Homo sapiens: one gene and its partner. The protein of the gene in region 1 purifies or fractionates together with the protein of each later gene. This does not show direct contact. Each region holds a gene or a part of one and is shown in the gene's direction. Other genes may lie near its edges.

What was found. The genes of interacting proteins can lie anywhere in the genome.
Region 2: the proteins of MTSS2 (region 1) and TXNDC5 purify together in Homo sapiens (affinity purification with mass spectrometry; one large-scale study listed by BioGRID and IntAct). This does not show direct contact.

Annotation. Positions count from the first base shown.
Region 1 is NC_000016.10:70,672,502-70,676,148, reverse strand, and holds part of MTSS2 (protein MTSS 2), read left to right. Parts: intron 1-1,620; coding exon 1,621-1,843; intron 1,844-3,647. UniProt on the Homo sapiens protein: Involved in plasma membrane dynamics. Potentiated PDGF-mediated formation of membrane ruffles and lamellipodia in fibroblasts, acting via RAC1 activation. May function in actin bundling.
Region 2 is NC_000006.12:7,908,674-7,912,420, reverse strand, and holds the start of TXNDC5 (thioredoxin domain-containing protein 5 isoform 1 precursor), read left to right. Parts: upstream 1-1,632; 5' UTR 1,633-1,644; coding exon 1,645-1,907; intron 1,908-2,343; exon of another isoform or gene 2,344-2,608; intron 2,609-3,747. UniProt on the Homo sapiens protein: Protein disulfide isomerase of the endoplasmic reticulum lumen involved in the formation of disulfide bonds in proteins. Can reduce insulin disulfide bonds.

The DNA of each region.
Region 1 (3,647 bases):
TGGGGGCCCCCCTTTGCCAGGCACCCCTCTCCCCAGAATCACTGGCTGGACATCCAGAGCTTGGGAGAAGCCAGGCACAGCAATCAGCTACTACCTCAGAGAGAGGCTCTTCAGACCCTGCGTGGGTGGCCGTCCCACAGTGAAGGGGCTGATTGCAGGGGACAGCCATGAGCAGGGGCAGAGGCTGGGAGGCTTCAGGGTCACGCTTAGCCAGGAACACCACCCAAGGGTTGAATTGCTGTGCTGAGGGTGTGAGCCATAGAGGGCTGGACACCCTTGAGGGATTGGAGAGAGTGAGGGTGATGGTGGGTGCAGGACCCACTTGGAAGGTGACCTCTGTACGCACACACACCATCACCATATGCTAGACATCCAGTTAGGACTGGATGGCAAATACCAGATTTTGAGAAGGTGGTTTAGGAATGATTGGACTCACCGGGGGCAGTCGTTCACGCCTGTAATCCCAGCAGTTCGGGAGGCCGAGGCAGGCGGATCACGAGGTCAGGAGATTGAGACCATCCTGGTAAAAACGGTGAAACCCCGTCTTTACTAAAAAATACAAAAAAATTAGCCGGGCATGGTGGTGTGTGCCTGTAGTCCCAGCTACTCGGGAGGCTGAGGCCTCAGTGATAAAGATATATTCTTTAGGATATAGGAATCTAGATTAAGATCTTTGGTGAAACCAATAGGTTTTTTGGTGGGTTTTTTGGGTTTTGTTGTCATTGTGAGACAGGGTCTCGCTCTGTCACCCAGGCTGGAGTGCAGTGGCACAATCATGGCTCACTGTGGCCTCGACCTCCCGGGTTCAAGCGATTCTCCTGCCTCAGCTTCCCAAGTAGCTGGGAATACAGGTGTGCACCACCACGCCTGGCTAATTTTCATATATTTTGTAGAGACAGGGTCTCACCCTATTGCCCAGGCTGGTCTCAAATTCCTGGACTCAAGCAATCCACCCACCTCAGACTCCCAAAGTGCTGGGACAGGTGTGAGCCACCACGCCCAGACAGGACAACTGTTTCTTGTTTCTTTTTTTTTTTTTCAAGACAGAGCCTTGCTCTCCTAGGCTGGAGTGCAGTGGCATAATCTTGGCTCACTGCAACCTCCGCCTCCCAGGTTCAAGTGATTCTCGTGCCTCAGCCTGCCAAGTAGCTGAGATTACAGGCATGCGCCACCATGCCCAGCTAACTTTTGCATTTTTAGTGGTGATGGGGTTTCGCTATGTTCTCCAGGCTGGTCTTGAACTCCTGTCCTCAAATGATCCACCCGCCTTGGTCTCCCAAAGTTCTGGGATTACAGACATGAGCCACTGTGCCCAGCCTGGACAACTGTTCTTAGTGGCAGAATAGGAGGCAGAGAGGTTGCCTCACCCTGGGCATTCCCTGACCACGGCTCCCCTCAGCACTGGGGCTGGGGGTACCCTGCTCTGGCCCTCCCCTTCCACACCGTCCCAGAACACAGCTCCTGTGTAGCACCTGGGTCTCAGGACCTCCTAGTCTGACATTGTCTTTTCCTTCCTTTGCCCCTCACCTCTTTCCCCACCCTCGTTTGTCAACCTCCCCCAAACACACACCCCTCTGTCTCCCTGTCTGGCTGCTGTGCCCTCTTCCTTCACTCCCCTAGTGCCCCCAGCAGCAGTAGCAGTGCCAAGGGTGGCGGAGCCCCATGGCCTGGGGGTGCCCAAACATACTCACCCAGTTCCACCTGTCGCTACCGCAGCCTGGCGCAGCCAGCCACCACCACCGCTCGCCTCTCCAGCGTTTCCTCCCATGACTCTGGCTTCGTCTCCCAGGACGCCACCTACTCCAAGCCCCCCTCGCCTATGCCTTCAGACATCACCAGCCAGGTGAGGGGGCGTTAGGAGGATCAGTCAGGGTGGGGTGCAGCAGCCTTATGCCAGCATCAGGCAAGCCACATGCGGGACTACTATAGCTGTTGAGACTACTATAGCTGTTGAGACTGGCCTGAAGGCCCCCAAGGCCTTTATTCTGTTCAGTATTTATATTATTATTTTCTATCTCTGCTTTTAAATTCACATATCTTTATATCTTAAATGAGTCTCTTGTAAGCAGCATAATGCCTAGATTTTCTTTTTTTATCCAATCTGACAACCTCTATCTTTTAATTGCCATTTTTAGCCCCTTTGTATTTACTGACATATTTGGACTTCTGGCTTTCTTCTTTCTATTTGTCCTGAATTCTTGTCTCTACCCTTGACTTTGTTTTTTCTTTTCTCTTATTCCCCGTCTGCTGGATTGTAAGTTATATTCTGTCTCTTTTCTTTTATAGGTTACCTTGAAATCTTACCATATGCATACTTAACACAACCCCACCTCCTGAGTAATTCAAGGCCCTTAATATATATTTTTTTACTTGTCACCCACTCCTTCTCAAACTTACAAGCTATATTATTTTCTCTTTTTTTTTACAGTACCCACAAATGACATTTTTCTTCTTAATTTCTTTATTTTATACATACAGTACTTATTTAGATTTACCCATATGTTAATACACATTTCTTGTCATTTTTTTCTTGCATCTCAAATCCTCCAAAGCTTATTTTCTTTCTTTCTGAAGTAAAAAACATCTTTTAGAAGTTCTTTTAGAATAGATCTGTAGTTGTAAACTCTCAGTTTTTGTTTGTTTGTCTGTAAACATGTTTTATTTTGTCCTCTTCTTGAAAGTTCGTTTTGCCAGGAACACTATTCTGGGGTGACAGTTGTCTTCCATCCACACTGTGAAGGTATTTTTCCGCTGTGTTCTGGCTTCCACCATTGGTTGGAAGGTCAGCTGTCAGTCACTGATGCTTCTTTCTGAGGAATCTGAGTCTCTCTCTGGGCACTTTTAGGCCTTCTCTTTAGTTTTGCTACAGCGTGTCTACAATGTGGATTTATTTTTATTTAACCTCTCCTTGTTGGTATTCATGTCTTTCATTTGTCCTTGGAATTTTCAGTCATTATTTCATTTTGTTTTGTTTTGTTTTGTTTTGAGACACGATCTTACTCTGTCACCTAGGCTGGAGCACAGTGGCGCGATCTTGGCTCACTGCAACCTCCTCCTCCTCCCAGGCTCAAGCGATCCTCCCACCTCACCCTCCAAAGCAGCTGGGACTATAGGCATGCACCACCATGCCCAGCTAATTTTTGTATTTTTAGTAGAGACAACATTTTGCCATGTTGCCCAGGCTGGTCTTGAACTCCTGGGCTCAAGGGATCTGCCTGCCTTAGCCTCCCAAAGTGCTGGGATTACAGGTGTGAGCAACCGCGCCCAGCCAGTCATTATCTCTTTACTTCCACTTTGATTCTTTCTATTCTGTCCTCAGGGATTCCAGTTGGATGCATGTCCAGCCCTCTCTTTCTATCTTAGGCATCTCTGAGCTCATATTTTCTATCTCCTTGTTTCTCCGGATATATTCTGGATCATTTCTTCAGTTTTATCTTACAATCGACTTTTTCTTTTTTTTTTTTTTTGCTATTTAACCTACCCACTGAGGGTTTTTTGTTTGGGTTTTTTTTTTAACTTTTTATTTTGAAATAATTTTAGACTTGTAGAAAAGTTGTAAAATATGTAGAGTTCCCATATACTCTTCCCAGAATCTCCCCAGTGTTGACATCTTACTTTATGTAACCACCAAAAACATTTTTAAAACC
Region 2 (3,747 bases), on another chromosome or scaffold:
GAGAGAGCTCCTAGAACTGTGTTTCAGTTAAAAACGAAAGACACTGATGCTGTAAGAGTGTATGGCGATGCTTGTGGGAATTTCCCAACAGCACCGTGGAAGGGTTTGGGAGGTTTGAGGTGTTGGAGAACACAGGGATTAGAGTTTGGCAATAACAGTTATTGGAGAGAATCCCTGGATTTCTAGTGTTGAGTGAGTTTCACAGGGACACAAAGCATGATGCAACCACATCACGGAAGGCCTTGAATGGCTGCCCCAGGCATGACTATTTCACCCCATCGGCCAAGGCCATGGGGACAGTGGTGGCGTTTTGGTCCAAGTTTAAGCAGCAAACTGTCTTGGTCAAAGGCAGGCTTTAGGAAAATTAATTTTCCAGCCATGTGAATGAAAGAGACTCTTAGAAAGCTACTGCAATAGGCCAGGCTTAGTCTCCGTTCAGGGTATGAACACTGAGAATGCTGGAAGGAAATCATGGTTACAGGAAATGCGGTTGAATTTTGAGACACACGGGAAAAGAGCGAGCAATACAAGATGCCTCCCATGTTTCAAGCTTAAGTGGCTGGAAGAACAGACTTTGGAGGGAGATTGATGGTTTTGGTGTTTGGCAACCCATGGTTAAAGGTTCATAAGTGGCTGGGCCTAAGGCGGGAGCAGAATAATGACAGGTGAGACAGTGGGCGCGTCCCCTGTTGCCAAGCCAGGAGTTAACTACCTGGGGCTTCCTGGATTGAGGATAATCAAAGAGCAGGCAGGATCCCGGAGAGCAACCCGGTGATTCTAATTTAGCTTCAGATCCCCGGGGTAGGGCTGGAGCTTTCGATTACCATCTGCTGTAAGGTGTGTGTGCAGGTGCGAGTTATGAGTCGCTGGGCAGGGATGCCTTCGGGCCATTCCACAGGCTGAGTTCAGCCATAGCAGGCGTGCTGTCATTCATTTTAGTAACCGGCATAAATGAGGGCACAGTAGGACCCCAGTCAGTCCTGCTAGGTGCCTTCTTGTCTAGAAGAGGCCGCTTTGACTTTCTTTCCTCTTCATCCCTGAGTTGAGGCCGGGCAGGGGTAACCAGCAAGGGGTTCACTTGGGAAGCGGGTTTCATCACCCCTCTGAGCCCAGGTCGAGAATCACAGTTGAGCTCTGGCCAAGAATCTAACTAATTCAGGTGCAAACCCCACCGTCTTTTGCCCGATTTCCTATATTCTGCTGACAGCAGCTCTCTCCTTCCTTTGGCCTGAAATCGCGGGGTGCTTGTGTGAGCTGAGATTAGCCGAGGCTGACCTGCCCCTCCGTGGCTTCCCGCTGGCCTCATCGTTACTTCGTGTGTTCACCGCCGCTCTGAGCAGAGCGGGCCCCTGGGGAAAGGGGTGCGGGCCTGGGTTGCGGAGGCGCAGGAGCCTCGCGGGATTGGGGCGAGCCGTCCCATGGCGGGAAGGCAGGAGGCCGGACTCGGAAGGCTCTCCCAGACTCGGTCCCTCGCTCCAGCCCTTCCCTGCCGGTGCGCGGAGCCGGGGCTCGGGCGGGTAGCGGTCGCGCGCCGGCGCGGGCGGGCGGGGAGAGGAAGGGGCGCGGCCTCTCCGGGGCGGGGCGCGGGGCGGGCGCTGCGAGGGGACCGGAGGCCGCGGCGAGAGCGCGCCCAGCCCCGCCGCGATGCCCGCGCGCCCAGGACGCCTCCTCCCGCTGCTGGCCCGGCCGGCGGCCCTGACTGCGCTGCTGCTGCTGCTGCTGGGCCATGGCGGCGGCGGGCGCTGGGGCGCCCGGGCCCAGGAGGCGGCGGCGGCGGCGGCGGACGGGCCCCCCGCGGCAGACGGCGAGGACGGACAGGACCCGCACAGCAAGCACCTGTACACGGCCGACATGTTCACGCACGGGATCCAGAGCGCCGCGCACTTCGTCATGTTCTTCGCGCCCTGGTAACGCCGCGCAGGCCGGCGCCCTGCCCCGCACTTGGCGCTTCGCGGGGCGTGGGGCGCTTGGGCGCCGCGGGCGGGGGGTCCCGGGGCCACGTGGACGCCGACGGCTCTGGTCTGCGGCGTGCGTGCTACGGGCGCGGGGCTCGGGGCTCAGGGGTGCGGGGTGTAATACTGGGGGCGCGGGGCCGGGAGCGCGGGGACCCTGCGGGTTCGGGGCTCCGGCTGGCGGGGAGCGGGGGGCGCGGGCGCCGCGGCTCGGGGCCGGGAGCCGGGGACTGCAGGGGACCGAGGGCTTGGGGCTCCGGGTCGGGAGGCGTGAGCTCAGCGGGCCGGGCACTGGCGGCTGACGTGGCGCTCGGCGGCCGGGGCGGTGCGGGAGGAGGGGGCGGACCCCTAGGGGACAGCCGGGAAAAGCCCGCCCTGCGCCGCGCTCCTGAATTCAACCGCCTCTTGCACCTCGGCACCGAGGGAGGGGAAGGTGGGGTCGTCGCCCTTTCGGGCAGCCGGGAGTCCAAATGTCACCCCGCGGTCCCTGCCCAGCGCCCCAAACTTCCTGTGCCGGCCGGACGCGCGGCCTGCCCGTGGGCCACGTGCACTCACCAGAGCGGCCTTGCTGCTGCCGCGGCCACCGGGGTCGGCTGGGACAGACTGCGGGCACGTCCCCTTCCAGAGGCTTTAACTGAAAAATAGAACCCAGGAAGGTGTGGTTTCCCACTTTGTGCGTCTTTTGTGGGATAGGAAGGAGTGGTCCGGGCAGAGGAGGGTTGCTGAGCTACCCCGGGAAGACCAAGGTAGTGCGAATTCTGGAACCCCTCCGCCCCCCTGCAGCTCAGGGTGGATGTAATCTCTGAACGGAGCCCACTGGTCCTCAACTCCAGGCTGTCCTGTCACCTCCCTGCTGCTCTCTCGGGTCCAGGTCACTTGTTATGTGTGAGATCGGAAAAGCCCCTCCGTTGAGCAGATGGTCCCTCTTGCTTTGGTTCTCTGGGCGAGGCTTTGGTGTGGGCCTCGCTGCTGACCTGAGAGACCCTACCCTGGCACTCATCCCACGGAAGAGCTTCCTGTCATTCACACAAGCATGTGCACAGCTTTCCTGCCAGTGCCGGGATGCCCCGAGGAAGGGAAGTGACCACAGGCCAGAGCAGAAAGCCATAATTTTAGGACACAAGACCTTTGAGAGGTTGGAATAGCCTGCAGGTTCTTGTTGCAGAACTTGGTATTCTTCCCCAGAGCTCAGTAGAGGCTCACTTGGGAAAGGGATGTAGGGAGGCATAGAGAAAAGGTACCCTAAGAAAAATGGCCAGTTCAGAAATTGTACCTTTCAAACTGGGAGAAACGTTTTTCTCTTAACCTTGTATTCAGGCTATTACTGCGTTTCAGTTCATTTGGAGTTAAATCAACTTTTAGGGCCACTGTGGGTTTATTAACAATGTGTATATGAAGTACATTATGTTTCACATTCCTAAGAACCAACTGACTCGAATTTTTACAACTCCAATGGTTTAGAAATTACTTTGTAACATAAAACAATCAGGCAGTATTAACAGTTTCTCTTTGTTCGGGAGTATTCTCAGCAACTATTTCAATTAAGTGTACTACTTAATTGGAGCCTATTTCAGTGGAATACATCTGTCGATGGGTTTTCTTTTTTCTTTCTTCATTATTTATTTATTTTAGAGATGGGATCTTGCTCTGTTACCCAGCCTGAAACCAGTGGTACGCAGCCGCAGCTCACTGTAGCCTCTAACTCCTGGGCTCAAGTGATTCTCCTGCCTCAGCCTCTGAAGTAGCTGTGACTACAGGCGCAGGTCATCACACCCAGCTTATTTTGTTGTTGTTG